Homo sapiens: one gene and its partners. The protein of the gene in region 4 interacts with the protein of the main gene of each other region in a biochemical or structural test. Each region holds a gene or a part of one and is shown on either strand. Other genes may lie near its edges.

Region 1 (8,188 bases), about 29 Mb from region 4:
AAGAAAGCTCTGGACATGTCGATGTGCTATATGTGTGGACAGAAGAGAGGTAGGAGACAAAGAGGGTTGAGGAGTAACTGAAAGAGTAAGGCTCCTTAGAAAGGAAAAAGGGTTGAGAGAGAGTCAGAGCTTACAGAGGATCTGCAGGACTTATGGGGAGACCCTGAGGGCTGCCTCGAGGCAGCAGCCTGACTATGGAAAGTGTGACTTTTCTACAGCAAGTGCTCAGCTAGACCCTGGTTTGCACTAGCTTGCTACAATTTCAGAAATGCTGTGAGCTCTCTTTGGAATATTTACACCATGAAAATAGGCAGATGCTATAAATCAGCCTCCATCCCAGAGCCAATTGTGTAACATTTACCAGGACATCATAGGGAGGAATGGTCTAATTCAGGATCTGGGGCTCACAGAAATAGGAGGAAGTGAGGGAATTAAAGACGGCAAGAGAGGATGAAGCAACAGATCATCCTCTGGGACTAGCTGACTAAGGAAGGGATGTGTAATCGACTGGGAGACAAGGTGAGGGCAGGGAGGTGAAGGCTTGGTCAAGGCTGGGGTTGATGAGCAGGTGTAATGGGAACCAAGCAGGGAGGACAGGAGCAGATGGACTCAGGAGGAAGAGCTTCACTGAGGATTCTGGGGGAGGGAGAGTAAAATGGGCACATGGACCAGGGCATAGGCCTTGGAGGAGGGGAGGAGGGGAAGGTCATTGTAGTCTCAAGGCCAGAGTGTCATCATGGGTCAGCCTCAGTACAGTGGAGTCACACTGATGACCAGGGTAGGGGTGGGAGTGAGGAAAAAACAGTGTGATTCTGATGCCCAGATCTTTAATGAATGGAGCAGGGTGATCAACAGTTCCTCAGATGTTTGGGACAAACATATCAGCAGGAGCTGGGCAGAGGACAAGATCTTCAGGGGAGGGGAAGGAGGAATATATGTCCAAGGACAGAAGTCCCCATCAGTGTTGTGTTTTTCTTCTACTGAAAATAAAATGTACTTCCTAGATCTGTCCATTGAATCAGTGACCAACTCAGTATCAATGAACAGCTCAGTCATCTTCCATTGAAACAGACTAGGGCTCTTTAGGGAAATGGCTAATTCCAGGTCTAGGGCAGAAAAAATGCAAGCTGAGCCTGAAGCATCTTATCAGATCAGAAAGCAAAGAAGAGCTCAAGATGCTCCAGGTTCTGCCAAAGATCTCAGAAGCCAACTGGAAGGAGTACCCACTGGCCAAGCCCAAAACAATGATGTCTGTGATGTGTTGGAACAGCAAGGATGTCTAAAAATAATGACATTACCATGGTACTCAAACAGCCTCAGTGGTCACGTCTGGAAAGAATGCTAGAGAACTGACTCTTCCTCTGATAAATAAAGAGGAATATTGAACATCTTCCCTGCCTTTGCTGTACAGATTCTATTTAACCAAACAGCTAGTGGTGAAATCATTTTAGAATGCTAGTGAATAAATGAAGGAGGTATGATAGGATTAGAATATCCCCACTTCAAGCCCCAGTGATATAATGGGTCCAGGCCATGGTCAATGGCTGCCAAAACCAGCAGGTGAAAGGCCGATGGGTCACTTTGTAATGGACAGAGCAGGCTGACAGCACATGAATTCTGGTCAATCTTGACACCACAGAAAAGAAGAATTCTTTCCAGGCCAAATCTGCACCCAGGAAGTACAGGGAACAGAGGGACACATTAAATGGCACTGTGGAGATGCAAACTCCAAACTACAGGATACACCTGGGGACAATCTGGTGTCTTCACTAAATAAATGGAAAGAAAAAAAAGCAGTGGAGGCTTACCGAGTAAAGAAACCTAATAGGCAAATCGACCATATGCAACGTGTGCTCCTTCTGTGGATTCTGCTTCAAACAAACCAACCAAAAATTTACGAGGCAGCCAGCAACATTTCAACACTAAGTAGATATTTGATGATATTAAATGATTTTATGTGTTATAATGGATTGTGGGCTTTTTTTTTTTTTTTTTACAGTTATTATCTTCTAGAACTATATATTGAAGGATTTACAGATGAAGGGATACTGTATCTGGATGTTCTTCAAAATAATCTACAGTGGCCGGGTGCAGTGGTTCATGCCTGTAATCCCAGCACTTTGGGAGGCCGAGGTGGGTGGATCACCTGAGGTCAGGAGTTTGATATCAGCCTGACCAACATGGTGAAACCCCGTCTCTACTAAAAATACAAAAATTAGCTGGGCATGGTGGTGCACACCTATAATCCCAGCTTCTTGGGAGGTTGAGGCACGAGAATCACTTGAACCCGGGAGGTGGAGGTTGCGGTAAGCTGAGATTGCGCCACTGCACTCCAGACTGGGAGACAGAGAGACTCCATCTCAAAAAACAAACAAACAAAAATCCAAAAGAATCTACAGTGATGGGACAGTGGGTGAGGATGGAAAGAATCTAGGTTAGCTTTGGGGTGAAGCTGGGTCACAGGTACACAGGGGTTCATTATACTAACAGGGTTCTCTCTATCAATGTATGTGTTTGAAACTTTCCATGTTAAAAACATGAAAAAAACCCAACCCTAGCTCATTGCTTATTCATAGTAATTACTCAATAAATATTAACTGTCCTGTTAAAGATTTTTTTTTTAGGCCACAAAAATGGGGACTCACCCCCAACCCACAACAAGTAAAGAGAGTTGACTTTAAATAGAGGGCTGTTATGCTAAGCGAAATAAGCCAGTCACAGAAGGAGAAATACTGCATGATTCCACTTACATGGGGGTCTCTAAAATACTCAAATGCGTAGACTCAAAGAGTGGGATGGTGGTTTCCAGGGAGAAAGGGCGCTAGGAAATTGGGAATTGCTAATCAATGGGCATAAAGTTTCAGTTTGGCAAGATAGATGAGTTCTAGGGGTCTGATGTGCAACAGTATCACATGATATGTATCCATAGTTAATGATATGTAGTTAATGATATGATATTTACACTTAAAAGTGTGTTAAGAGGGTAGAGCTCATGCTATATGCTCTTGCCACAATAAAAGAAAATTAAAATAATAAATAAATGGAGGGCTGTGCTTTGCCACCCAGACCCTTGGTGTGGCAGGATGGGAATAGAACATGGGTTCTACCGTTTCCTTCTTCTGCACACATTTACTGAGCACCTATTATGTTCCAGGTGCCACAAAGCACAGGTAGGAGATGTAATGCCAGCCCTTTCTTCAGGCTTTTGGGCCGGGAGACAATGATGCCATTACTGAAGACCTAGCACAAAGCATCCCTTGCCTCTCCCCTTCATCCACAGACCCCTGCACAACCTCAGGCAGCCTGTGGAGATGAGTCCTTTAGCACCTGGCCGACTCTCAGACATATGCATAATCCACTCTCCGCACGGGGCCACCAAAGTATGCCTTCCAGCCTGGACACCAATTACTAAGCAGGGCTCACAGCCTCCCCCCTGCCTCCTCCTGCCTTCTCTCTCACTGTAACAAAGGCATAACATGTAGACAGTCAAATTTAGAAAGCGTGTGTATCTGAAGCACACAGCACAGCCTGATGGCTCTGCATATGCATGCACCAATGTCATCACTACCCAGGTCAAGGTATGGAACTGTCCCAGCCCTTCAGAAAGTTTTCTAGCATTCTCTTCCAGTTAGTACACTCACTGCACACACACAGATGGGTAACCGCTATCCTGGATTTTATCACCATTGATAAGTTTCCCCTGTTTTTGAACTTCATCTACACAGAATCAAAAGGTGTGTACACCTTGAGTTTCAGACCTGGCTTATTTTGCGCAGTATAACATCCATGAAATTCATCCATGTGTGCATCAGTAGTTTGCTATTTTTCCTTGTACCGTGGTCCAGTCTATGGATACATGGTTTATTTATCCATTCTCCTGCAGATGGCATCTGGCCTCATCTCTTGACCCCTCTTCTCATAGGCTACACGTTTTACGTCTCCCAAACCACAGAGCAACCCAGCAATACTGCTACTCCTGTGCCTACGTGTGTGTAGTTCCCTTTGCCCTCACACTTCATGATGCATATCTGAATATTGACAGTTACAGTGCATCGTGATAAAAGTACATGCAGAGTGTTTCAGAAGCACATGGGACATCTAAGTCTGGGGGTGGTCAGCGACACAGGCACTATCACAGAGCACAGACTCACAAGATAGGAGAGAGGCTCAGGTGTGGCTCACAGATGGCTGGAGTGGGACATTGGCTGGGCTGTCCTGGGACTTCTGATATCAGAGCCTCTGCCCAGCTTGTATGCCTTGAGGTGCATTTGAGGGGGGCCCTGGGCTCTGAGTCTCCGGGCTGCTTTGAGTGGATGGCATTTGGAAGGTGGAGGTCAGTGATGCTCGGTGATCTGCCCAACAAGAGAGAGCTGGGATCGAAAGCCTGGGAGCTGTGAGTGGTCACTAGGAGTGACAGGGGTGGGGCTGTTGTGTGTGTGTGTGTGTTTGTGTGTGTATGTAGGTCTCGGCAGACAGTCCACCTCTGGGCGTGGCTGGGGGACACTTACCAGGCAGCCCAAACCCAAACGCAGTGAGATGCTGCCGCCATGAAAACACGCAGGAGGGACACGGGCCTCTGGAGGCTCCCGGGAGAGGAGGAAGCTTCTCTGCAGTTGGGTGCTTGCCTGGGGCAGGGTTTCCCCAGCCCCTCCGGTACCCCTCACACCCGCAGGGAGGATGATCTGCATTCTACACAATTGGCCTAGACCTCTAGGGTCAGGGGATTCTTGCACGAAGCTTCTCAGCGCAGAGGCTTCAGAGGCTTTTATCAGGGACTTTTCCAACCTACCCAACTGTCCCAACGACGCAGCCCCGCCGCAGCCACGCCCCCTCTCTCTGGGTCCTCTCTGGAAGTCCGCAGGCAGCAGGCTCTCACTGCGGCCCCTCCCACACTCACTCTACAAGTCTGGGCTCCTCGGGGCATCCGGCTGAAGGATCCCGATGAGGAGGGCAGATTTAGACAATTCCCTGTGATTTTCCGTGGCACCCAGCCCGCACCAGCTTGCTGCGGTGAGGGTAGGGGATTGTACCTGGCATGGGCGGGGCTGCCAAGAGCACTTCCTTCACAGGCCCCAGGGATTGGTGTCACTACGTTCTATCTCCAAAGTGGAGCATCTCTGACTGAAAGGGGAGCACTACTAGCTATCCCACCGGTCACAGGCAAGGAACGGGACTGTCCTGGGTCACTATGCACGGAGCAGGCAGCTCAACTGGGCATCACCACGGAACGTGGGCAGGAGGGTGCCCTCCCCTCTCTCTCGGTGAGGGGCGTTCTACACGCACCTCCGCACCTCTGGCACCAGCAGCTTCCTGGGGGTCCCAGAGGAGCTGGTGCTGCCCTCCCCAGCCTTGCTCCCTGAAATCGCAGCATCGGGGCACTTGCGGTCTAATGAGCTGGTTGACCCTCTGCCTGCCTTGGGGACATGCTCTGCAGTTGTTCCTCACAGGGAAAGCGGGGCAGCTGGAAGTGTAGGGGATGATCCCCAGCTACTCTCTGGGATTCTCTGGATTTTAGGTGCCCACATCTGTGTCCCAGTGTCTCCCAGCCAGTGACTTGGGTCCTTAGATGCCCCCACAGTTCAGGACAGCCCTCCTGTGGTGCTGCCCCTCTGGCCTGACCACAGCATTCCAGGTTTACAGGTGACAGCCCATGGCTCACAGTGCCAATGTTCCTCTGGAACTCCGGGCCCTTCCCTGAGACTCTTGATGCCCTCCAGGCCGCTGTGGCTGCTGCTACCACCTGGCTTTGTGTGCGGAAGTGTGAGTGAGGGCACCCCAGGTCTGCTGTGGCCCTACTGGGTGCCTTTACTTCCAGGGCCTATGTGGGCCCATTCCTTGCTGGCATATACATTGTTTCTCAATCTCTCCGTCTCTGGTGCTCGTCACAGCTAGTGTGGTGACCAGGACCTGGGAGGAGGCAGGTGCCACCTCAACAGCCATCCTGCTCCTCCTGGCTGCCTCTTTTTCTGCCTCCTTTGGGTCTTTCAACGTCAATGCTCCCCAAAGCTCTGTCCTGAGATCCTCTTTTCTCTCTCCTCCTCTTTCTGGGAGACTGCACTCCATGCTCCTGCAACCATCCCCATCTTTGATCCCTGCATCCAAGTTTCCAATGTTCTCTATCCCCTACCACACACCTGGTACCTCCACACCAACATATACCAGCCCCTGGGGGTCCACATTCCCCCCAAAAGTTGCTGCTCAGTGTTCCCTGTTCCTTCAAAGGTATCTCCCTCCTCCCAGGCCTGGGCCTCATGCTGGGGGTGTCAGGACCTCCTGGCCCCCTCTCCTTCCTGCACAGCCTCCAGACCCCTCCTGCTCCAAATGGGCTCTGCCCTCCCTCTCTGCTGCTTCTGCCCTCCAAGCCATACTGGGGCAGATCGGAATATTTTGTTTCCTTGTTTGGCCTCTGTCCTGTTTGCTCATCATTGCCAGATTCAACTCAATTCAGCTCCACCAGTGTCCCTGGGCTCTGCTCTGAGGCACTCGGAAAGGTGCCCTGAGAAGCCTGGTGCAGCACAGACCATTAGGAAGGAGGATTTAGGGCCTCCTCCACCCCCCAATTCCCTACACCACATGTGAGGCGCAGCAGAAATGTAAGGATTGAGAAAGAGCTGTGCGTGCCAGCAAGGAGCAAAGGTCATGGAAATTAAGGGATGACTTCCTGGAAGAGGGAGTCACGTGACGTGGACCTCAAAGAAAGCAGTGGCCTTTTGCAGTGTTGATTGGAACAAGGAAGAGTTAGAAAAACCTAACATTCAGCAGGATCAACGCACTGTGGAATACTCTCAAATGTACTGCTGTGAAAATGGCCCAGCATGGATAAATCTCAGCCACATAATGTTGGGTGAAATGGCAAATTGAAGAACGGTGATACGCATGGCAAGGTGCCATTCATATAAATCTCAAAGACAAACAAAACAGTATATTATTATGGATACAGATGTTTGTAGTAAGAGTATGAACATCTGTATAAGAGTGATATACTCCAGATTTATCTCTGGCGAGGCAGGGAGAGAAAGAGGAAGGGACAGGAGGAGGGGATCTAGTTATGGCTTGTTCTATTTATTTGAAAAGAGAGAGGAAGGGGTCTGAGGCAAATATGGCAAAATGTTAACATCTGTTCAGTATAGGTGATTACAGGCATGTGGGTGCTTGTTTTATTGTTTTCTCCTTATTTGTGCATTAAGCTAAAATTTTAAAGGAAGTTAAAAGGAAAAAAAAACAGGGAGCTGGCATTCTACACAGGTTGGGCGTTCCCTACAGGGGCCCAGTGTGAACCGAGGGGCAGGGGTTGAATGAGGGCACCCAGGAGCCCAGCACAGCTGGGCAAGGCTGGAGCAGGGGCTGGGGCGATGGGCCTGGGGGATGGGCTTGGATGTCTAAAGGGGCGGGCACCAACTTTCTCTTCCCTGCTTACTTGCCTGCTTCTCCTAGTGTGTTGCTTAGGGTCCGTTGCTTGCCCCATCCCTGCAACAACCTTTGGCTGGATGATTTTCAAGGGTTACTTATTCATTCCTTACCCTATATTGAGTATCCACTACAAAAGCTACAGTTCCACGATGGCCCTATAGATAGGCATGATTACCATCACCCCATCTCTATTTTATAGATAAAAAAGCCAGCAGAGAGGGGTTAAGGGATTTGCCCACGGTTACGCAGCTAGCGGGAGGGAGGCAGAGCTGGGATTGGCGCCAGAGCCTGTGATCCTCACTGCAGTGCTCTCTTTTGCTCCCCACATACCAGGCCCATGCTGAGTGCCGTGGACTCAGTGATGACCCAGGTGACACAGCCCTGCCCTCACACAGCTTCTGGGCCAGTCCCAGAAACAAAACAAGCAGCACACAGATGTAATTACAACCAATGATCTAGTGAAGGAAGCGAACCTTGTGCTTCAAGGGAGAAAACAAGGACACCACTGAGGGTCATGGGTCCAAGAAGGTCCCTCTGAAGAGGGAACATTTAAGCCAAGACCTAAAGGATAGAGTTGGCCAGGAGAGATTGGGAAGGACAGCGAAGTCGGAGAGAATAGCAAGTGCAAAGGCCTGAGGACAGGCAGGGGCTCCAGCAAGAAACCAGAAAGGGTCAGAGGGGAGGAGCCCAGAGCAGAGGGAAGCGGCAAGACCGTGACGGCAGAGAGGGGGAGGGCAGAGAGGGAGATGGCTCTCATTTGAGATCTCCATTGTAGGAA
Region 2 (8,796 bases), on a different chromosome or scaffold from region 4:
GTCAGCTTAAAGAAATGTTTACATGAAAGGAAGGAAGTTTGCTAGTCATCATGTGATGCTATGCCAGAGTCGGGTTATGAGAGCAAGATACAATATATTGGGTCAAAATGACATGTTTAGCCAGATTGATGGTCTGTAGGTATGACTCTCTCCAGGCCTTTTTGGAGAGAATTTTTAGCAAAGAGAAAGAGGTCAGAGTTCAGTCCTCAATGATCTCCACAAAGACTGCTCTGCCTGAAACTTGTGATATAAATCATGCCGTGGGACATGGGCCTGCTCCTCTCCAAGGGCCGTTGGCTGGGCCTCTTAGGGTTCAAACCAGAATCTCCTGATTCTCACTCTCATACGATATTATGCAAAGAAAAACTCCCTTTTGGAAAAACCCCCTTCTGGAATCCTTAATTTGGCAATCTTCCAATTTGCTCAACATACTAAAAAAAAATTAAAGAGGTAAGTGTGTATGTATGTGTATGTGGGGGGACGCCAGGGATGAGTGGGGAGAGGGTGTCATGTGGCCCACGCACTGCACAGTTCTCCGGCTACTTTCTCTCCCAACTCTGATTGGACTGGAGCGGACATTAATGCTCACTCCAGCCTCATCACCTCTCCAGAGAGCTGACACTGCTTGGGAAGCTAAATTGTTCTTTTTGAAGGGAGAATTACATATGAGAGACTGAAAATCGAAACAAACTAAAAAGGATGCAAGCTCACTATGAATTAGTTAAGTCTATTGCGTTATCTTATGGCAAGTTTATAACTTTCTCCCTGAATTTTGGGTTCCCTTGGTTGGAGAAGGGAAATGTAGATGTGTTCCCTAGGACTACCATAACAAAGTACTGCAAACTTGATGGCTTAAATTAAAGCAACAGAAATTCATTCTCTCACAGTTCTGGAGGGCAGAAGTCAGAAATCAAGATGCCAGCAGGGCTGCACTCCCTCTTCTGAAGGCTCTAGGGGGAGTCTTTCATTGATTTACCAGTTCTAGTGGCTCCAGGTGTTCCTTGGCTTATAGCTGCATCACTTTAATCATTTTACATGGCCTTCTCCCCTGTGTGAGCTTGTTGACACTCCTTTGTCGTCTCTCTTACAAGGATACATGTAATTGTATTTTGGGCTCACCTGGATAATGAAAAATAAACTCGTTGCCTCAAGATCCTTAATTAACCACCATTTGTGCCACATAAGGTCACATTTACAGAATCCAGGATTTGAATATGGGCATGTCTTTGGTGCCAATGTGTAGCCCACTACACTACGTAATTCTTTTCTCTGTCTTATCACAGAACAGGCTCTCTTACACATAAAGTTGGTTGCTTTCTAAATTCCATGAGGTTTCAAGTTTGTTTCCATTGTTCCCCTTTCTTTCTTTTTTTTTTTTTTGAGATGGAGTTTCGCTCTTGTTGCCCAGGCTGAGGAGCTCAACGGTATAATCTCAGCTCGCCGCAACTTTCACCTCCCAGGTTCAAACGATTCTCCTGCCTCAGCATCCCAAGTAGCTGGGATTACAGGCACCTGCCACCATGCCCAGCTAATTTTTGTATTTTTAGTAGAGATAGGGTTTCACCATGTTGGCCAGGCTGGTCTTGAACTCCTGACCTCGTCATCTGCCCACTTCGGCCTCCCAAAGTGCTGGGATTACAGGCGTGAGCCACTGCGCCCAGCCTGTTCTTCCACTTTCTTAATGACCTAAATAGAAACATGATTCACGCTGACTTCTTCCTTTGTATTTAACCTTGCACTATGAAAACAAACTACTGTCTCTGATGCCTTAGTAACTTAATAGTGCTTCTGATCTTTTGAAAATCACAGGTTTGTGCTTATAGGAATATATCCTCTAGACTCAAGCTTATGTCTCTAAAAGTCTAACTAAAGGCCTTGTGGCTGGTACATTACTGTAATCAGCAAGAAACTGGCCCTGATTCTCTTAAACTCACTTTGTTCAACTGAGAACAAACTTGGAAGTCTCCTACAAAACTGGAGTTGATTCTCATCTCTTGATTACTTCTGCAGGCCTTTGAAAGTTCCGGAGAAGTTCTCTGTGTGCCATATACATTAAACACGCTTCCATGTTTTCCTTTAAATCATCAAGAGCAGCACATAGGATAATGTGTTTATTCCTTTCTCTGCTCCCTAGGATTATCTTCTTTTTAAAGTCATCGACCCTTTCCCTATCTACTCTAAATGAATGATTTCTTGCTCCATCCTGACAAATCCGGTTAAAATGACATTGCATCTCTTTATATCATCTGTCCAAATTGTACAAAGAAAGAGTGTCTAATGGGCACTCTCCAGCAAATTTACTGCCTATGGAGTGCTTAGAGATCCCAGGCTGTCCTAAAAATAAAAGAAAGTCTTGAATAGGTTTCTCCTTTCTCTGAGGTTTACAGATTCAGAAGCAGGGAGTAGGGAGAAAGCATTTCCCTCATTATCTTTCTAATACTCTTGAAACATATTCTGCTCCTTGAAAACCTAATATTCAAAAGTTAGCTCTCGGAGTGTAGGATCGATTTTTTTTCACTGTTTATTTTATTTTAAAGTTTTTAATTTTTTTTATTTTTATTTTTATTTTTTATTTTTTGGAGACAGAGTCTCACTCTGTCACCCAGGCTGGAGTGCAGTGGCACGATCTCAGTTCACTGCAACCTGCGCCTCCCGGGTTCAAGCAATTCCCTGCCTTAGCCTCCCAAGTAGCTGGGATTACAGGTGCCTGTCACCACGCCAGGCTAATTTTTGTGTTTTTAGTAGAGACGGGGTTTCACCATCTTGGCCAGGCTGGTCTCGAACTCCTGACCTCGTGATCCACCCGCCTCAGCCCACCAAAGTGCTGGGATTAGGCATGAGCCTTTTTTTTTTTTTTCTGAGGCAGTCTTGCTCTGTCACCCAGGCTGGAGTGCAGTGGTGTGATCCCAGCTCACTGCAGCCACAACATCCCCAGCTCAAGCAATCCTTCCACTTTAGCTTCCTGAGTAGCTGAGACTATAGGCACATGCCACCATGTCCAGCTAATTTTTGTATTTTTTTTTTTAGAGATGGGGTCTCCCTGTGTCACTCAGACTGCTTTCAGTCTGTTCTGGACTCGAGATCTTCCTGCCTCAGCCTCCCAAAGTGCTAGGGTTATAGGGGTGAGCCACTCCATCCAGCCCACTTTATTCATTTTAATGAGATGAACATTAGTCAATTAATTGGGCTTTTTGGCTCACTGCAACCTCCACCTTCCGGGTTCAAATGATTTTCCTGCCTCAGCCTCCCAAGTAGCTGGGACTACTGGCGCGTGCCACCATGCCTGGCTAATTTTTGTATTTTTAGTAGAGACAGGGTTTCACCATATTGGCTAGGCTGGTCTCCAACTCCCGACCTCGTGATCTGCCCACTTTGGCCTCCCAAAGTGCTGGGATTACAGGCGTGAGGTCACTGCGCCTGGCCAATTGGGCTTTTATTGGAGAAGAATGAATATCTATAGTGACTGCTTGTAGAATGAAATGTTGTTTCAAGCTTTTTGCCCCCTAAAGATGAGAATGGTAATATAACATTTGTGTACTGTGAGTTCTAATTGGGATAAATAAAATACTAGAAATAGAATCCCAGACCCAGGAAGAACCTTGTCTTCAGAGGAGCAACCTTGGTCCCAGCCCCTTCTCCACAGCTGCATGAAGAAGCTGCACAGAAAACCACTCACCCTCACCCCTAGAAAGTACTCTTCCCAGCCCCTAGTAACCACTATTCTACTCTCCACTTCTATAGGATCAAATTTTTTAGCTTCCACATGTGAGTGAGAACATGCAGTATTTATCTTTCTATGCCTGGCTTAGTTCACTTAACATAATGTCTCCCAAGCTCATCCATGTTGCCACAAATGACAAATTTTGTTCTTTTTAAATCAGTAAATAGTATTCAATTGTGAATATATACCACATTTTTCATCCATCTTTCTGTTGATGAACATTTCGGGTGATCCATATTTTGGCTATTGTGAATAGTGCTACAGTAAACATGAGAGTGCAGAGATCTCAACAAGATTCAGTAACCTTACTACTGAGTATATATCCAAAGTATTTTATTCATTTTGATGCTATTATAAATGGAATAGTTTCCTTAGTTTCCATTTTTGGATTGTTTATTGTTAGTGTATATAAATGCAACTGATTTTTGTGTATTGATTTCCTGTCCTGCAACTTTGCTCAATTTGCTTGCTTATTAGTTCTATTGGGGTTTTGTGTGTGTGTGTGTGCATGGTATCTTCAGGTTTTTCTACATATAAGATTTTATCATTTGCAAACAGACAAAATTTTACTTATTTATTTCCAATTTGGATCCCTTTTACTTATTTTTCTTGCTTAATGTTACTGCAGCTTTCTATGCAGGAAACGAGGATTTGAACAGTGATGGAGAGATGAGTAATGGTTCGATTTGGAACATATTTTATGGGCAGAACAAATGGAACTTGTTGGCTCAGAAGTGGGTGGTGGAAGAAAGAGGGAAGTTAAAAGTGACTTCTAGGTTTATGGATGGATGAACTGGCTAAATTATTGTGGTGCCATTTGCTTAGACAGGGTAGATGGGGGGATGCAGGACTAAGAGAGGAAGAGAAAAGCTCCACCTGGGCCACATTAAATTTGGCCATGATTGTGGATCAGATAGGTAAAAGCAAGAGAAGGAGGGAAGAAGTCAGAACACAGACCTCTGGGGAAAGCTCACACGTAGAAAAGGGGTGGAAGAAGAGGCATCAGAAAGAGAGGCAAAGAAGAGCAATCTGAGGGGTAGAAAAAGAACCAGGAAAGTCAGAGAAAAAAGGGAAAAGTTTCAGGAAAGTGGCAATGGTCAACTATGCAAACAAGAGGGGAAGGAAGGTGAGGACTGAGAAAGGATTTTTTATGTAAGCAACAAGGAGGTTTTTGGTGACCTCTGACAGAACATTTTCAGCAGACTGGATAAGGTCTCTGCCTGAGTGCAAGTGAGCTGAAAATGCAAGTGAGTGAGGGAAGTGCTTTAAAAAAGTCTAAAGTGCTATGTGTGTAAGGCAATGTTGCTATTTCTGTTGCCATGGAAACAGAAACCATTTAGGAGAACTAAAAGCCACTTAAAATTCCTGACTCTAACCCATCATATCCGCTTGATCTCTTGAGAAAGATAATGACAAAAAACCAGTCATTAGAGGGGCAGGGCAATTTTAGGTTTCTTCTTTTTAGACATAGCCCCTAACTGGAAATTTTCACCCTTCTTGAGAAGGGAGCTTGCACTAACATCTACAATGGCTTCTAAAAAGCACAGATGACCTGCTACACTTCCTGACTTGCTTGCTATTGGTTGGCACTGTTCATAAATATAATTTGCTCTTTCACTTTTCTTTGAAATGAGCAACCTGAATTACTCGGAGGAGAAAGGCAGGAGAGATAGAGGCAGCAGAAGCCAGGGCAGCTGAAAGACAGAGACCTTCAGGTGGGCATTTTAATCTTTGTTTTGTTAATTCAGTGTTGAGCATCATGACTTGATGATCACATAATAGTCAGAGGAGTAATTTTTTAAAAGTAAATTTGTTTTGTTCTACTATAAATGTTATTTTCCTATCATGTACATGGTAGTTTAAAAAATACTGTGGAAGTATAAAAATGTTGAAAGAAGCCAAATTCTCCACCAAAATAGCCTCTATTGATATTTTGGGGATCGTCCCTTTGTGTGTGTGTGTGTGTGTGTGTGTGTGTGTGTGTGTGTGTGTGTGTGTGTGTGAGTGTGTGTGTGTGTGTGTGTATGCACATATAACTTTAGTTTTCATAGTTGCGTCCCTACACTATGGACAAGTTTGTATTCATTTCCTCCATATCAGTCTATGGTTTTTCCATGTTGCTGTGAATTCTTTGTAATCATAAATTAAAGCTGCTGCATATTATTGCATTGAGGAACTTTACTATACTTCCTCCATTTTTGGCTGTTATCCTCTTTTTCATAGTTTGGGTCCTTCTATTATATAAGATATATTTTTTCCATTCAGTGTCTTGTTTTAGGGGTAGAAGAAGTTAAATCTGAGCACATATATTTCAATGGTTTTGCTCAGAGGCACAATGAGAATGAAAGAGTATGTGAGATCATGAGCATATAATCTGTTCCTTACCCCACTGGGACCCTAATCAGTGTTTCTCAACCCTGGCTGCACATCTGGCCAGAATCACCCGACTCTGAGGAGATTAGAAAATTACCCCTAGAATAACTGAAGCTTAACTTTTGGAGATCAGTGAGTCATCTGCAGTATTTTATCTTGTTTTCCAGAAACTTCTCAGGTGGTTCTAATGGGTGGTCAGCATAAAAACAGATGACCTAGGTCATTCAAAATATTTTTCTGTCTCTGAAATATACCTGAGAGTAATATGTATTAGGAGAAAGGGAGGTATAATTTAAGGCAAGCCAACCAAATCTCCCTTTCAACACTACATAAATAATGCAAATTATAAAATAATTTGTGGGAAACATAAGACTTCTAGAAATTTCTATCATCTACTCAGCCACATAAACTCTTGAGATAAGAATCTACTTGTGTTTCGATTTACTAATGTTTTAAAGAGATGGATTTGTTTCCAGTGCTTCGGTGGTTAAAAGTTAGAGAAGTTGAGGCTCAAGTGTGTTCTAAATGTATCTGAATCACGCCCATATCTGCTAGAATCTACCAAGGCAGCCAGGCTTCCTTTTAAAACTCTTCAAGATTAAACACAAGGTGGGCATTTAATAGCTGGCCAGTTCACTAACACACTGTGGGCACAGCGAAGATCGATGGGATTGGATTTGGAGGCAGAAGGTGGCTCACTCTGGCTTTCAGGAGCCACATAGACATGGCATTTACCTTCTCTGGACCTCATATCCTCAGGAGGAAAGTGGATAGAGTTTATGCCAGGGCTGCGTTCTGGTTTCTCCCATCAGGGACTGAAAACAGAGCCACAGCGCCTAAACCACACTGAAGCATTTGCTGTTGCACTCAGCCTGCTACAGGCTAGGAATCATCCCAATGAGACCAACAGCATGTTAATCTAATTTCTTCTTGTTTTGACTCAGTGGAGAACACCTGTTTAGTACCTTCTTTAATGAATGTAAACATTCACATAGTACTTTACTATTTACAAAACATGTTTACAGGCATCAGTTCATTTGATCCACATACTAGCCTTAAGAACTGGAGGATGTAATTCTTATTTTAAAGATGGTAAAGATGAGACCAAGAGAACATAGGATCTTTCCCAGGTGGAACCAGAACTGGTCCAATCTGGTTGAGCCCAGGGCACATGGTCCTTTCTTACAACTTAAATAATAGCTATTGTGGGAAATTGGTTAAACAAATTTCATAATGTTTATATAATTGGCTATTCTGTATCCAGTTAAATGATGACATTGATGTTGTTAGTTGGCAAAGAAAGGTGATCATGACACGAAATAAGAAAAAAGCAAGATACAAACAGCATTATAAGTGTGCTCATTTTTGTTCAAAAATATTTGTATATATTTCAAGAAAGATAAAAAAACCATATATGCAAAATTTTAGCTATGTCTGGTTGGTGGTAAAGTTCATTATTTAAGTTTATTTCAGCTTGTATTACATTGTAATTTTTTTTTACCATGAATGTGTACTACTTGTGTAATAAAAATAAATAGAATTGTTCATGTGTTTCTGGTTGGCTCTTCTCCAGATGAAATGGCCCCATCTTCTTTCACTTGACCATAAAGAAGGCTCCTGTTTAATTATCTGAGTTTTGTACATTATTGTCACAAATCTTATTGTGATTGTTAGCTAGTACTGACTGAACTCTTCACATGTGTTGGGCACCAAGTTAATCACTTAACATCCATTTTTTTTTCATCAATACTCACTCCAGTGCTCCTTTGGCAGATGAGAGTTTGAAGCTCAGACGGCTGCAGTAATAAAAGAGACTAAAAGGCAGAGTTGAAACTTAAACCCAGGTCCCTTTTAACTCAAAAGCACATGCTTTCATTCATTATATCACTCTGCCTCCTATCCACCTGGGATCACATGAGCAGCCTCCATTTTGGAGGAAAGATGATATATTTTTTCAGTGTACTCATTGCTGTGTACATGAGTACATGATGGTTACCTTGGGCATCGTTAGCATTTCCTGTGTACTCCAGAATCAAAGATCCTTTCTGCTTTTCTATAGTTTGCTCTGTGCACCAGATATCTGAGGCACTCTAGTTCCCCAAGGGTAAGCCTTTAAGATAAAAGCCTCACAAGGGATTGTGCAATTACCCAATGAACTCTGGCTAATGCGGCAGCCAAATTGGATAATACAAAGAAAGGCAAGCATTTTGCTGTGGGTGCTCAGCGTTGCTAGAGAGCTTTTTGAAATCCATGTCAGAAACCCCTAGCACTGTATTTCTTTATTTCTCAGGGTATTGGCCACTGCCTCCTTTGTACTGCAGTTACTTATGTACAGTATGTTCTATTGGACCAAGACTCTGACATTGGAGTCATTGCATAGAACCTAGCACATAAACTCCATTGAGAATAAAGGCATTGTGTAAATAAATCAATTCACCCAATGAATGCAGACTTTATTAGTTACAGCTAATGTTTATCTCTGTTGAACTTTATTAACCTCTTTATATTAATTGACCCATGGAGAAAATATAATCTTGACAGAATTTAAAGGAAAACCTCTTCCAATGGATTGATGACTTTGTGGCAGTACAGTCAGTCTTTTGACAAAGAAATCTAGTTATTATTCGAGAGGCCCAGGATAAGGGTCTAAGCAGTGAGTTGGAGTCAAGAAATTCCAAAGTCGGAAGGGTCCTTAGGAAGAG
Region 3 (8,384 bases), on a different chromosome or scaffold from region 4:
CAGTGGGAAGGGTACACAAATACTGACCTAAAAGCAGGAGGCTAAGGCACAAAATATAACTCAAGAATTTACTACAGACCCAGTGTGGTGGTTCATGCCTGTAATCCCAGCACTTTGGGAGGCCGAGGCAGGCAGATCGCTGGAGCTCAAACTCCTGAGCTGTGGATTACAGTGTCCTTGGGGCACTGTTAGGTTAATCTGTAGCTATGTGGCAATATGAAGTACTTTCGAGTGATAAGTAAATAGCTCAAGGGGGTGGGAACTACGAGGTGACTGCTGTGTCATTTTAATGTCTCTCTGGGCCTGATAATTTAAAAGGACTCCGCATTCCTCAGATGATGATTATTATTATTTTCTCACTATGAGGCCTCAGACTTTAAAATCCCTCAAACTGGCCCAGGCACAGTGGCTCATGCCTGTAATCCCAGCATTTTTGGAGGCCAAGGCGGGCAGATCACCTGAGGTCAGGAGTTCAAGACCAGCCTGGCCAACATGGTGCAACCCCATCTCTACCAAAAATACAAAAATTAGCTGGGTGTGAGGGTGCACGCCTATAGTCCCAGCTACTTGAGAGACTGGGGCAGGAGAATCACTTGAACCCAGGAGGCAGAGGTTGCAGTGAGCAGAGATTGCACCACTGCACTCCAGCCTGGGTGACAGAGCTGAGCAACAGAGAAAGACTCCGTCTCAAAAAAAAGAAATAAAGAAATTTTAACAATTAAAAATAAAGAAAAGCATAATACTGTAATAATACTCCAATGAAAGGAGTAGCTGGAAGCAGTAAGCGCCTCAAATCAGGATCACCTGGAGCACTTGAAACCTCACCACCCCCACCCACACACCCAGTGTTTCCAGTTTTACTGAATCAGTCCAGAGTGGATGCTGGAGAATCTGCATCTCTTAGAATCTCCCAAGTGATGCCGATGCTGCTGCTCTGAGTGCTATGCTTTGAGAACAGCTGCCCTAAAGCACACTAATAGTTGTTACACATGCATCATCTCCAACTGCAGGTACTTTAAGAATTTCCCTTGAGAAACTCTAGCCTTCCAGAACAGGGAGCGCCTTCTCCATGCATTTCCGACAGCACCTGAACTGGAAGCAGCTCAGTACAGCAGCTCCAAAGAGGCTGGGGAGCCAGTCTGCCCAGCTTTGGAGCCTGCTCTGACACTTGATTGTTGTGTGAGTCCAGGCAACTTAACCACTCTCAGCTTAAGTGTCCTCGGAGTAAAACAGAGGTCTACTAGCTCCTTCCCTTCCATCAGGGAAACCGGAAATGAACACCTACTCAAGTCATCAATGGGAGCGCATCACTTCCTATTTCCCTGCCACCTACATTTTGAAAATGCAGGGGGAGAAAAATATAAGGAGGCAGGAGTCACATCTGTAATCCCAGACTTTGGGTGGCCGAAGCGGGAGGAACACTTGAGCCCAGGAGTTCAAGACCAGCCTGAGCAACAACATAGAGAGCCCTATCTCTACAAAAAAAATTTTTTTTTATTATCCGGGCATGGTGACACACACCTGGAGCCCCAGCTACTCGGGAGGCTGAGGCAGGAGGATTGCTTCGGCCCAGGAGTTGGAGGCTGCAGCAAGCTATGAATGTGTCACTGCCCTCCAGCCTGGGTCACAGCTTGCACAAAGCAAGATCCTGTCTCAAAAAAAAAAAAAAAAAGTTCCTTGCCCTGCCTGAAGTTGAGGAGACCATTTGTCTACCTCAAGTTATTATTTGCAGAAACCACACCCATATTCCTTCCTCCTCCACGTGCCCCTCTCCTTAAGAGAAAGGCCGCCAAACAACCAAGAGAAGTTCCTACACCCACTGAGTGTACCACAATCGAAACAAGAGTAAGCGACTCATCCTCTTGGAATCCCCTAGGTCAAGCTTGTCCAACCTGAGGCCCATGGGCTGCCAAATTCGTAAGCTTTCTTAAAACATCAGATTTTTTTTTGCGATTTTTTTTTAGCTCATCAGCTATCATTAGTGTTAGTGTATGATTAGTGTTAGTGTATTTTATGTATGGCCCAAGACAATTCTTCCAGTGTGGCCCAGGGAACCCAAAAAATTGGAGACCCCCACCCTAGGTTGTCCCATAATAAAAGGCAATATCAACATGTGGGAAAGATGAGGCGGCAGAGGTCAAGAAACAGAAGATCTAATAATCATCCAAGTGAGATTGAAGCCCTTCAAAGGTTCAGGCTTATGTAGTTAGCAGACGGAATTCCCCCACACACACCCGCCACTCCCCCAAGACGGAGTCTCACTCTGTCACCCAGGCTGGAGTACAGTGGGGCGATCTCAGCTCACTGCAACCTCCGCCTACTGGGTTCAAGCAATTCCCCTGCCTCAGCCTCCTGAGTAGCTGGGATTACAGGCGTGCTCCACCACACCCGGCTAATTTTTGTATTTTTAGTAGAGACGGGGTTTCACCATGTCAGCCAGGCTGGTCTCGAACTCCTGACCTCGTGATCCACCCACCTCTGCCTCCCAAAGTGCAGGGATACAGGCGTGAGCCACCGCGCCAGGCCAAGATGGAAATTTTAGTTACTACTGTCACCCGAGTCTTTCTCCGTTTGTTTCCTTGCACAAAATGGGTAGGGCTGTGGGCCCTCCCAGCTCAGGAGCCCTGGGGTGGTTTTAAGAAGGTAGAACTCCTGGTAGGAACCACCTGCATCAAGACCATGGATCACCTCTCTGAAGGTTAGCGATTCCAGGGACCCCACCTCCGAGCTGTCCTCCTACGTGGAAGTGAAAGTATTGGAAACAGGGGAAAGAAGCTGGTCAAAGACAGACTCCAGTCGTGGCGGTGCATGTCCCAGTTAAAAGCAAATCCTGGAAAATCTTGTTCAAGAACAGGGTCCCCATTCATAAATGAAAAATAATAATAGTGTTATTTTACCCACATGAAACTTGCCATAACTAGGTACCACGACCCACATGGACACACAGTGAGATTCCCACAAAGAGGCAAAAGGAGAGCCCTGGTCACTGAGACAAAAGATACAGAGACACCGGGACACAGAGAGGTACAACGGGACGTGGAGTTGGATCGAGCTGTCTCGTAAGGAATATCGGAAGGGGTGGGGACACTACTGGGAGATGGCATAGGTCCAGGACACTAATTAGGCTTTGGCTGAGATCAGATAAAGGAAACTGTTCGTAAGCTGCTTACTTAAAAAGAAAGGAAAAGGTGCGTTTGAGTTCAGGAGACTGCGAGTCCCAGAGCAGGAGGCGGGAGCCAGCGAAGGGTGGGCGTGTAAGGGGTGCAGTCGCTTCTCCCGCTGGGCAAGAGACTCCCCCTTTCGGCAGCCTGGGTTCCCCGCCTCCCCACCTCCTGCTCCTCCTCCCCCGAGCCCTAAGGGCCCGCAGGGCCTCCAGTAGCAAAGCCACTGGCCCCGCGTCCCCGCGTCCCCCTGCGCCGCGCCCCGGGGCGCAGGCAGGGACCACGCGGCCGGCGTGGGGGCGGCGCCACCCGCAGCAGAAAGCCCCGGCGTGGACCGCGTGGCGTAGGAAAGCGCTCCCCTCGCCCCCAGCCGCAGAGGGCTTGGGCAGCATCGGGCGCGGCCCCGGGAGAGTGCGTCCGCGGCGCCAGCGGCTGCAGGGTGACCTGTTTCGGGCGGGGACACTCACCAGAAGAACACGCGTGAGCAGAGGTTCGCGTCCTGCAGCGGGTTGGGCTTCACCTCCTGGTACACGGGCAGCATCTTGCCGGGCGGGGCGGGCGCGGGCCGGGGTCGCGCTGATCAGGCGGCGGTGGCCGCGGGCTCCGCTCCTGGACCTCAAGCAGGGATGCTGGGGCTCCGGCCGCCACGCCTGTCCGCTCGGCTGGAGCCTGTGAAGCAGCCGCTTCCGGGAGCCGGGCGCCGGCGGCACGCCCCGTCCCCGCCTCTCAGGCCCGCCGCCTCGGGGGCGCCCGCTACGCGCCGCCGCCTGGAGCCCGGGAGCTGCGCACCGCGTGCGAGCGCGGCCGGGACCGACGGGTGACGCGGCGGGAGGAGACGCGGCGGGAGGAGGCGAAGCTGGCGACGCCAAAGGGAGCCCAGAGCTACGCCCAGGGGTGAGGCGAGGGCCGCCTGCGCCGCTGGATGGAGAGGGTAGCAGAGCGCGCGGCAAGGAGGCCGGGTCCGGAGGTGCCCACGTGCACGAACCCGAGTGAAACTTTCCGAAATTCACTATCCGAGTCTAGGCGCCGACACAGAAGGTGGAGCAGGGAGGCGTCGGCTGTGCCCGCCCCTGCGCCGCAGAAACGCCCCCTCGGCTACGGGTTTGGGAAGACTGGGAGACAGCTGCCTCGTGCTCTAGCAGCCCGCCCCCTGGGCGCCTTTCCCTTCTCAGGACCAAACGACGGTGCCATGGGAGGCTCTTCAACCTGTGAGCCAAACATTTGACCTTGGACGACAGCAAAGTTTAGCCACAGATTATCCTTGTAGAGCTGCAAGACCTCAAGAAAGCCGGGTAACTCGAGAGTATGACCCAGATGAATTCGGGAGATGGATGAATGCTGTCGTCGATGGGGGCGGGCTTTAGGCATCTCACATGTTGCATGCTACGGTGGACCTCTGAGCTTTTTGCTGCCCCCTTAGATTGGGAAAGGAATATAAGAGGAAAGAGAGACTGCCTGATGATTTCTGTCGTCAAGCCCTAAAGCCTAACAGATAACAGTGGCAAACGACACGTGGGTTCCAGAATACCAGTGATGTTCATGTGCATTTCTGAGTGCGTAGCCTCACTAGTGTGTGTGTGTGTGTGTGTGTGTGGCAGTCTCACACACAGTGTCACGATTATGGCTCATTGCACCCTCGACCTCCCAGGGCTCAAGCAATCCTCCCAACTCAGTTTAAGTAGCTAGGACTACAGGCACCCGCCACCACACCCGGCTCATATTTTGTAATTTTTGTAGAGATGCAAAAATCAAAATCAAAGGCTCCAAGTTCAAATACTGATAATTTTTGAAGCCAAATGATTGTCATGGAGGTTTATTTTCTTCATATTTCATGCATGTTTGAGAATTTGGTTTTCTTTGTAATAAGATCATTTTATTGTTCCTTGATAATTTCTCACTTTGTTGCCCAGGCTGGTCTCAAACTCCTAGGCTCAAGTGATCCTCCCACCGTGGCCTCCCAAAGTGCTAGGATTACAGGCATGTACCACCACGCCCGACCAATTATCTCACTTTTAATTCTATCAGTGCCCCATTCAAGGTTATCCTTACTTTATAGATGAGGAAGGTGAAGCTGAAAGGCAGAACTTGTCCAGTCTTAGAGCCAAGAAAGGATAAAACATGATTTGCAATAAGCCTATGTCTAAGCATGGCCTGTCTCCCTGGTGGATGGCCAGTGTGCATGAGAAGTGCCCAGAATATGCTGGTTGAATGGCTGTAGGAATGAATGAACAAAATCTTGTTCCAAGCTTGTGTACTCCCACCTCTAAGTCTTCAGTCATTTCTGTGGCTACCTTAACAAGGTCAGCAGCTGCTCTTCATATCCACCCTGAATGAAAAAAAATGAAAGGCTCCAAGTTCATGGTGCTTGGAACAAGATCATTTTATTGTTCCTTGATAATTTCCCATGTATATTTGCTAAAATAGTATAGTTAATAGCTTTTAAAGAAAGCCTTACACAAACACATATTTAAAAGTCAAGCACAGGCTAGCCAGCATAGTGAGGCTCTGTCTCTACCAAAAGTTTTAAAAATTAGCCCAGGTGTGGTGGCGTACCCTTGTAGTCCCAGCTACTCGAGAGGCTGAGACAGGAGGATGGCTTTAGCCCAGGAGTTCCAGGCTACAAGGAGTTAAGAAGGTGCCCACTGGGCTGGGCACAATGGCTCACGCCTATAATCCTAGCACTCTGGGAGGCTGAGGCAGGTGAATCACCTGACGTCAGGAGTTCGAGACCAGCCTGGCCAACATGGTGAAACCCCATCTCTACTAAAAATACAAAAAATTATCTGGGTGTGGTGGTGGATGCCTGTAATCCCAGCTACTCAGGAACCTCAGGCAGAAGAATCACTTGAACCCAGGAGGCGGAGGTTGCAGTGAGCCGAGATCATCCCACTGCACTCCAGCTTGGCAACAAGAGTGAAACTCCGTCTCAAAAAAAAAAAGAAGGTGCCACTGCACTCCAGGCTGTACAAGCCCATAATCCCAGCACTTTGAGAGGTGGAGACAGGAGGATTGCTTTAGCCCGGGAGTTCTAGACCAGCCTGGGCAACATAGGGAGACCTCATCTCCACTAAAAATGTGAAAATTAGATGGGCATGGTGGAGTAAGTCTGTAGTCCCATGTAACCTGGAGGCTCAGGTGGGAGGATTGCTTGAGCCCAGGAGTTCTAGACCAGCCTGGGCAACAAAGGGAGACCTCATCTCTACTAAAAATGTAAAAATATGATGGGTGTGGTGGCGTGAGTCTGTAGTCCCAGCTGGAGGTTCAGGTGGGAGGATTGCTTAAGCCCAGGAGTTGGAGGCTACAGTAGGCTATGATCACACCACTGCCCTCCAGCCTGGGCTAAAGAGTGAGACTCTGTCTCAAAAAAAAAAAAAGTCAAGCACATAAGAATGGCAAAATATTGATAATTTTTGAAGCCAAATGATGTGTCATAGGGGTTTATTTTCTTACATTTCATGCATGTTTGAGAATGGTTTTCTTTTTGGAGATGGGCTCTCAGTATGTTGCCCAGGCTGGACTCAAGCTGCTGGGCCCAAGGGATCCTCCTGCCTCAACCCCTCCAAGTACCTGGGATTGTAGGCACTCGCCAGCATACCAGCTCATGTTTCAGAATTTCTGTCACAAAAAGGAACACAATATTTTAAGTTGACTACTGTGGGAAAGCTATGATCATTCAATAACCTACCTTTCTGATAGCTCTTTCTCAGATAATATAAGCTATAAACCAAAATAGTCAGCCTTCACCTGATTTACAGTGCCCTTTGAAACTTCCTAAGTTTTCTAGCCCAGTAAATGCTGAGCTACCAGTTCTACTTCCAAGCTAGAGAACCTGTTTACTAAAGTTAGAAGTCTAGTGACTTCCTCTGTCAGACTGTCCCAGAATGCTCTCCCTACCCCCAACAACTGTGTAAGAACCGTCATTAGCCATCTCCAAATTGCCAAAGTGCTCAGTCCCTTCGGCTCCTGCAGAGGCTTATTTTTTTCTTAATTAAGATCTTTTGGAACTTCTTAACATTCTTTTCTGAACATTAACAATGTGGTGTTTGGAAGAGATACTATAGAGCAGTGTCTGACTGCAGAGAGGAGTGGATATGGAACCAGGGGGCCAGGGCTTTATATCTTTTCACTTGTTACCTAACCTTTCTGACCCTTATTTTTCTCAGGTCTAAAATGGGGTCGGGGCGGGCGCAGGGGCTCATGCCTGTTATCCCAGCACTTTGGGAGGCGGAGGCAGACAGATCACCTGAGGTCAGGAGTTAGAAACCAGCCTCGCCAACATGGCAAAACCCCCTCTCTACTAAAAATACAAAAATGATCTGGGCGTGGTGGCATGTGCCTGTAATCCCAGCTACCTGCGAGACTGAGGCAGGAGAATTGCTTGAACCAGGGAGTCAGAGGTTGCAGTGAGCCGAGATCATGCCACTGCACTCCAGCCTGGCGACAGAGCGAGATTCTGTCTCAAAAAAAAAAAAAAAAAGATAAAAATTAGCCAGGCTTGGTGGCATGCGCCTGTAGTCCCACCTACTTGAGACGCTAAGGCAGGAGAATTACTTGAACCTGGGCTGCAGAGGTTGCAGTGAGCCATGAGCCAAGAGCTCGCTGCTGCACTCCAGCCTAGGTGACAGAGCTAGACTCCATCTCAAAAAAAAACAACAACAATAAAATGGGGTCAGGCAGGGCATGGTAGCTCACACCTATAATTTCAACATTTTGGGAGCCCAAGGCAGGAGCATCACTTGAAGCCAGGAGTTCGAGAGCAGCCTGGGCAATGTGATGAGATGCCGTCTCTACAAAAAATAAAAATAAAAAATAATAATAATAATAGTAATAATAATGTTTTTTAAATTAGCCAGGCATGGTGGCACACACCTGTAGTCCTAGCTACTCGGGAGGGTAAGATGGGAGGATCACTTGAGCCTAGGAGTTTGAGGCTGCAGTGAGCTCTGATTGCACGACTGCACTCCAACCTGGGAGACAGAGTGAGAGACCCTGTCTCTAAAAACATAAAAATACATGTAAAAACAAAATAGGGATCAGAATCCCCACTCTTCCTTCTTCACAGGATTATTGTGAGTCTCACAACTTGTGAATACACTCTGAAGGCAATATACAAATTAAAGGATGGGGGTTTTTTCCCATTCATTCAATAAATCGTTAGTGAACGCCTTCTGGATACATGACAGCTAGGCCAGGGAATGAGCCTGCAAAGACGAGGAAGATGTC
Region 4 (6,495 bases):
GGAGTCATAACCACTGCCCACTCACATCCAGCCAGCACATCGCAGTTTCCGAAGTACCAAACACATTCCACTCCACCTCCCTTCTGCAGGAAAGGGTCCTGAAGCTCTCTAAGATGGCTTTGACATGGGTCCACAAATTCTTTGACATTCCTTTCTTCAAGAGGTGGAGCCTAATTCCCCTCCCTTTGAGTGTGGACTGAACTTAGTGACTCATTTCTAATGAATAGAACAAAGCAGAAGCAACAGTGTAAGGCTTCCAAGACCGGGTCATAAGAGGCACTGTTTGTGGCTTCCTCCTTGCCCTCTCTTCTGTCTCACTGTGGGGAAAGCCAACTGCCATATCATGAGAAAACTCAAGCAGCAGCTCTAGGGTTAGCCCTACATGGTGAGGAACTGAGACCTCCTACCCACAGCCATGTGCATGAGCAGTATTGGAATGGATCCTCCAGCCCCAGTCAAGCCTTCAGATGACTGCAGCCCTAGCCGACAACTTGACTGCAACCTCATGAGCGACCCTGAGACAAGAACAGCCCAGCTTAGCCCCTCTCAAATTTCTGACCCACAGAACCTAAGAGATAATGAATATTTGTCATTTTAAGCTGCAAATTTTGGATAATTTGTCACACAACAATAGATAACCAATACACTGTCTTTGGCCCATGTAGTAAAGGTCTGTTCTTCTCCAGGGAAAGGTGCCCTAGTCCTTGGTCTGGTCCATCTTGGGACTGCAGGGGCCACCCCAGGACCCAAAGGCCAAGGCACAGACCACATACACTGGGCCGGGCTGCCTGTGTGCTCACAGGCTGTTTATTTATCCAAGAGTAAGGAGGAGAGAGACAGGATGAAGAGAAAAACCAGACTCCCCACGGTGGCAGGGCTGAGGGGAAAAACAAACAGAAAATCTCCTCTTCTTTCTCTTGCTGCTGACCCCAGGGTACTCCAGCTTCAGATGGGACCTCTGGGGGTGGCTTAGGGGCCTCGAGGAGGCCCGGCAGCTCAGCTGTTGGCTGGGGTCAGGATCCGCACAGGGGCAGGTCCCAGACTCGGAATGGCTTCTGTGTACACAAAATATCTCTCTGCAAAAGGCACTGGTGGAGGGGGGCAGCAGGAAGGCCACCCCATCACAGGCAGAGTCCACTCTGTCCTGCGTCTGGGTCCTGGGCCCCAAGACCAATCCAGTCTCCCTCAGGGTTGGGGTTTCGGAGGCCCTTGTTCCTCTCCTCTCCCTTCCCTCAGCCCAGGGGTGAGCAGGCAGTCGGTGGAGGCCCAGCTCAGGCCATGTCATGGACACCCCTCTTCAGGGCTAGTGCATCCGGCGACTTCTAGGCCAACAGCCCGAGGCGGGTGACTTTGGCCGACAGGAAGGAGTGGATGATGAAGACTATGGTTTTGGGACACGAGTGCAGGTCCAGCTGCTGGAGGGTGGATGGAGAGAAGAGTCAGGGCCCTGGCCAGCCTGGCCTCCGAGAGTGCACACCCCCTCCTCCCCAGGGTGCAGAGGCAGCCCCTCACTCACGATCTCGCCTTCAGCACCTCCAAAATCCAGGAAAAGGAGACTGGCACCGTCATCTGAAGACATCTGCAGCTTCTCGAAGGGCTGTCGCAGGAGCACAGCTCGGGCTGCACCTGGCTCAGCCGCCCACAGTGTGAAGCCCTTGTCGATGTGCACAGACAGGCTGCAGGGACGCCCATTCCACGTGCAGGCTGCAGGGAGGGCACATAGGTACAGGCACAGCTGGCACCTCAGAGACTACACCCCAACCTCCAACCCCCACCGCAGCTTACAAAGTGGGGCCTGAATGCCTCCAGGGATGGGAGGCTCACTGTTTGTCGTGGCACCAGTACACCCACCCTGCAGAGAGTCATCACCCCCACCCTCAGAGGACCTACACCCACTTCCAGTCCCACTTCCAGCAGCACAAGTAGAAAGGGGGAGCTTAAAATGTGCCATGGACAGGAGGCTCACTGCTGATAAAGGCATCATCAGATCTACCAAGCACCGCCCTTGGAGACCTGCAGAGTTACCCGGCTAAATTTAAATTTCAGATAAACAATGACTAATTTGGGCATACTTCTGTGAAAAAAGTATTCATTGTTAACCTGAAATTCAAATGAGGCTGGGTGTCCTGTATTTATTTCCTCTGGCAACCCTACCCCAAGTGCCATCTCTCACATCCTCACCAGCAGATTGACAAAACTGGGGCAAGAAAACCCCAGGGAGAAGAGTCTCTGCCTGCTAGGGCACCTGCACATCCAAAACAGAGGGCCCAAACCCAACTTCCTTTTTTTTTTGGAGAAACAGTCTCACTCTGTTACCCAGGCTGGAGTGCAGTGGGCGCAATCTCGGCTCACCACAACCTCCATCTCCCGGGTTCAAGTGATTCTCGTGCCTCAGCTTCCTGCGTAGCTGGGACTACAGGCACCTAGTACCATGCCCGGCTAATTTTTGTATTATTATTTTTTTTTTTTGAGACAGTCTTGCTCTGTCGCCCAGGCTGGAGTGCAGTGGCACAATCTGGGCCCACTACAACCTCCACCTCCCAGATTCAAACAATTCTGCCTCAGCCTCCCGAGTAGCTAGGACTACAGGCGCCCACCACCATGCCCGGCTAATTTTTGTATTTTTAGTAGAGACAGGGTTTCACCATTTTGGCCAGGCTGGTCTCAAACTGCTGACCTCAAGTGATCCACCCGCCTCAGCCTCCCAAAGTGCTGCGATTACAGGCGTGAGCCACCGCACCTGGCCAATTTTTGTATTATTAGTAGAGACAGGGTTTTGCCATGTTTGCCAGACTGGTCTCAAACTTCTGACCTCAGGTGATCCACCCACCTTGACCTCCAAACCCCATTTTCTATCCCCTCCTGAAGTGCCCTAAAGAAGGAAGCTTGAATGCCCCTGGGGATAAGAGGCTTATTACCAGAGGGACACTCCCAGATCCTCCCAGCACACCTGTAGACACCTCCTGCACACCCTCGGCGGCCCGGTGACAGCCATCCACAAGCTGGCGGGTCCAGGCAGCCAGCTCCTGCGGTGACTCCACGCTGAACAGGTGAGTGTCCACACCGTGACGCGTGCCCGTGCGCAGGGCAAAAGAGAGCTCTGCATCGTAGGGCACTGAGCCCTTGGAGGGGCCTGAGTGCACCAGTCTGGGGGTTGGGGGCAGAGGGCTGAGCATGAGGCCTCAGGCCGGAGGCAAATAGTTCTGGGCAAAGGGGCCAGTGACCTGGGAAGAAACCCTGTAAATCCTTTACCACCTAACAGGACAGGACTTGCCAGGGGGCACTGATTGACTCAGCAGGAGACATCTCCTGCCACCCTCCCCGTCACTCCCTTGGCTCTGGCTATACTGGTGTCATCACACACACCTAGCACATGCCTGCCTCAGCACCTTTGCATATGCTCTTCCCTCTGCCTATACATGCTTCCCTGATTATCTGCACGGCTCACTCCCTCACTTCCTTCAGATGTTAGTTTAAATGTCACCTCCTCTGAGAAGCCTTCCCTGACCTCCCAGTCCAAAATAGCACCCTTGTCACTCACTAGCCTTACTTTTTAATCATGGTACCAGAAATTATACTTTTTATTATTTGTTTTCGTTGGTTTTTGACTGTCTTTTTCACTAGAATGTCAACTAGGTTAGAAATTTTGATCTTGTGTTCACCACTGTATTCCCAGTAACTAAAACCATGCCTGCCCACAGTAGGTGCTCAGTAAACTTTTGTTGCCTAACTTGAATCACTTGATTAGGCAGACAGTCCAGGACCTAGTTATCCCTAGTAGCCAGCAGGCTCCTGACACACGGGCCAGAGCCAGCCTGAGGTAAGGAGACATGGGGGACAAGGACTTCAGACCCCTGCAGCTTGACTCTCACTTGCTGTGTGGCCTTGGTAAGCCAACTGCCCCTCTCTGGGGCAGAAAGTTCTGCCCCATATCCCTCTTTGTTCCTCCCTCCACCCACTCTTTCTCCTATAGCTCAGTTCCCCCCGCCACAGACTGCTGCTGACACCCGCCTTCGACTTTCCAGCCCTGAGCTGCAGACCCTCGAGTCCCCAGGCTTCCTATCCAAGCTCCCTCTCCATCCCACACACACTCTGGACTTAACTCAGCATCTTGCTCCAGCCTCCTCCCTTTCCACCCCCACCCCCAGTCCCACGCTCACCCAGACACAAGCTCCAAACCTCCTGTTCATTCCGGACCCCTCCTTCACCCGCCCCATCTGGCAAGCACGGAGCCCTGTTAATTTTACACCCATGTGGTTTCCAATGCCAATGCTGCCTTTCTTCCCCATCTGCTCCTGCCACCCACCTCCACCTCCCCCAGCCACCATCATCTCTCCTGCATGACTGCAGCACCTCCCCACTTCCATCCTGCACTCTCCGCTGCATTCTCCACGTGGCAGCCACAGGGATTCTCTTAAAGCAACCAGAGCACCTCGCTCCCCAGCTTAAACCCTTCAACACTACCAAACTCTTAAGCTAAAGCTAACATTCCTTAATCAGGCAATAGAAGCTCTTCAAGATCAGGCCCTGCCAACTCCCTTCTCTCCATTTCCTGCATGAATTCTGGTTATCACAAACTCATAGCTCCATGAACATGCTATAGCCCTTCATGCCTCTGTACTTTTGACCATGATGTTCTCTCTGCATGGGATGCTCTTTCACCCTTTCTTAAACAGAAAACTTCTACTCATCCATCAAAGTCCAGCTCAAATGTCACCTCCTCCCTGAAGCCTTCCTCTACTACCCCAACAGAGTTAAGTGGCTCCTACAAACCCTGCACTGTAATGGCTGTTCCTGGGTCTGTCTCCCCAGCCAGACAAGGTTCTCTCTGGAGGCAGAAACTGTTGGGGTCAGCTCTGTGCCCTCTGAACCATGCAGCACAAGGCATAAGTGTCAGCGAATGAGTGGCTAATGGGGACCTTATATCCTTTTGTTCCAAGCACCCATTTTACAGATGAGGAAACTGAGGCCCAGACAGGGCAGAGACTTGCTTCAGGTCACCTGGGGAATAGCTGAGGGTGGACAGGGCTGGAGTTCCCAGCTTCTGGGGCCCTGCTGGAGCATCTCCTGGCAAGTTCTGGGGGAGACATACTGCCCCTGCCTGTGGGTACCTGGTGGCGATGAGTGGGGCAGTACGGGCTGGCCGGCTCAGGGCCTCGCGGGTCTCGGGGAGAGACAAGTAGAGGAGCAGTTCCTTTTCAGTTAGCAGGGCCAGGGTGGGGGCTGTGCCCCCACTGGGCAGCTGCAGAGAACAAAACAGCAGTGAGGATGGGTGGGGGAAGAGAGGGCAGAGGGCCAGGGCAGGGTGAGGTGGCCAGGGGCACTGGGAACAGGGCCAGCTCCAAAGGAGCGGAAGAGAGAGAGGGATAGGTCCCAGGCCCAGCAGGTACCTGCTCAGTTAGCCAGCCAATCTGCTTGATGTCCTGGCTCCCAGCTGTGCTGGTGGCTGCCAACAGTGCCTGCAGCTCATCCTTGACCCGCGGCGTCAGAGTATTGACCTGGGCTTGGATGGCAGTCGCCCACGACCTCGCACTAGCCTCATCCTTGGCCCTCAGGAAGAGGGTGTCTTGACCATCTGCCGAGCAGATCTCCAGATACCTGCAGGCACAAATGGGTGGAGACAAGGACCTGACCATTAGGCTGCAGCTGCCCAACCCTGGCCCAAGAAACCCCACCCACCACCAAACCAGGAGAAACCAGGGGGATGTCCGTGAGAGAATCAGGAGCAACCCTCACTGCTGGGCTCCAGCCACAGTTGCTGGGGCTTCATGGGGCATAGGAACAAGCGAGTGTGACATATACACACGTGTTCATATATTTTGTGGGGTTTTTGTTGTTGTTTTTGAAACAGAGCCTCGCTCTGTCACCCAGGCTGCACTGCAATGGCCCAACCTCTGCCTCCCAGGTTCAAGTGATTCTCCTGCCTCAGCCTCCCAAGTAGCTGGGATTACAGGCACACGCCACCACACCCATATAATTTTTGTATTTTTAATAGAGATGGGGTTTCACCATGTTGGCCAGGATGGTCTCGATCTCCTGACCCCGTGATCCGCCTGCCTCAGCCTCCCAAAGTGCTGGGATTACAGGCATGAGCCACCATGCCTGGCCTTATTTTTTTATTTTTAGTAGAGATGGGGTTTCACCAAGTTGGCCAGGCTGGTCTCGAACTCCTGACCTCAAATGATCACCCCGCCTTCGCCCTCCAAAGTGCTGGGATTACAGGCATGAGCCACCGTGCCCAGCCTACACGTATGCAGATACACACAAATATACACACACACTGAAACATGCATGATGGTGTAATAGGGCCTAAATTATTGCTGTGTGGCTATTCCTAATCTTGCCCCTTTCTCCTGGTTTCTAAGGAACATCCTCTTCTGGGCCAGCTCCCAGGTTCTCCTTGTTGCACAGAACCAAACTAATTCACTAATAAGAGCAGGGGAAAAAAAAAAAAAAAACTAAGCTGGACATGGTGGCTCACGCCTGTAATCCCAG

What was found.
Region 1: the proteins of SNTA1 (region 4) and ADRA1D interact in a test that uses a peptide from one of them, tested with the Homo sapiens proteins (2 studies listed by BioGRID and IntAct).
Region 2: the proteins of SNTA1 (region 4) and CYSLTR2 interact in a test that uses a peptide from one of them, tested with the Homo sapiens proteins (2 studies listed by IntAct, with this or other methods).
Region 3: the proteins of SNTA1 (region 4) and ABCC4 form a complex in vitro, tested with the Homo sapiens proteins (2 studies listed by BioGRID and IntAct, with this or other methods).

What each region holds. Positions count from the first base shown.
Region 1 is NC_000020.11:4,238,430-4,246,617, forward strand, and holds part of ADRA1D (alpha-1D adrenergic receptor), read right to left. Parts: intron 1-8,188. UniProt on the Homo sapiens protein: This alpha-adrenergic receptor mediates its effect through the influx of extracellular calcium.
Region 2 is NC_000013.11:48,648,582-48,657,377, forward strand, and holds the start of CYSLTR2 (cysteinyl leukotriene receptor 2), read left to right. Parts: upstream 1-5,347; 5' UTR 5,348-5,436; intron 5,437-8,796. UniProt on the Homo sapiens protein: Receptor for cysteinyl leukotrienes. The response is mediated via a G-protein that activates a phosphatidylinositol-calcium second messenger system.
Region 3 is NC_000013.11:95,297,613-95,305,996, forward strand, and holds the start of ABCC4 (ATP-binding cassette sub-family C member 4), read right to left. Parts: upstream 3,840-8,384; 5' UTR 3,703-3,839; coding exon 3,629-3,702; exon of another isoform or gene 3,339-3,628; intron 1-3,338. UniProt on the Homo sapiens protein: ATP-dependent transporter of the ATP-binding cassette (ABC) family that actively extrudes physiological compounds and xenobiotics from cells.
Region 4 is NC_000020.11:33,407,185-33,413,679, forward strand, and holds the end of SNTA1 (alpha-1-syntrophin), read right to left. Parts: exon of another isoform or gene 5,599-6,495; coding exon 5,391-5,598; exon of another isoform or gene 5,243-5,390; coding exon 5,112-5,242; coding exon of another isoform or gene 5,002-5,111; exon of another isoform or gene 3,148-5,001; coding exon 2,951-3,147; coding exon of another isoform or gene 2,919-2,950; exon of another isoform or gene 2,869-2,918; intron 1,705-2,868; coding exon 1,517-1,704; intron 1,416-1,516; coding exon 1,323-1,415; 3' UTR 773-1,322; downstream 1-772. UniProt on the Homo sapiens protein: Adapter protein that binds to and probably organizes the subcellular localization of a variety of membrane proteins. May link various receptors to the actin cytoskeleton and the extracellular matrix via the dystrophin glycoprotein complex.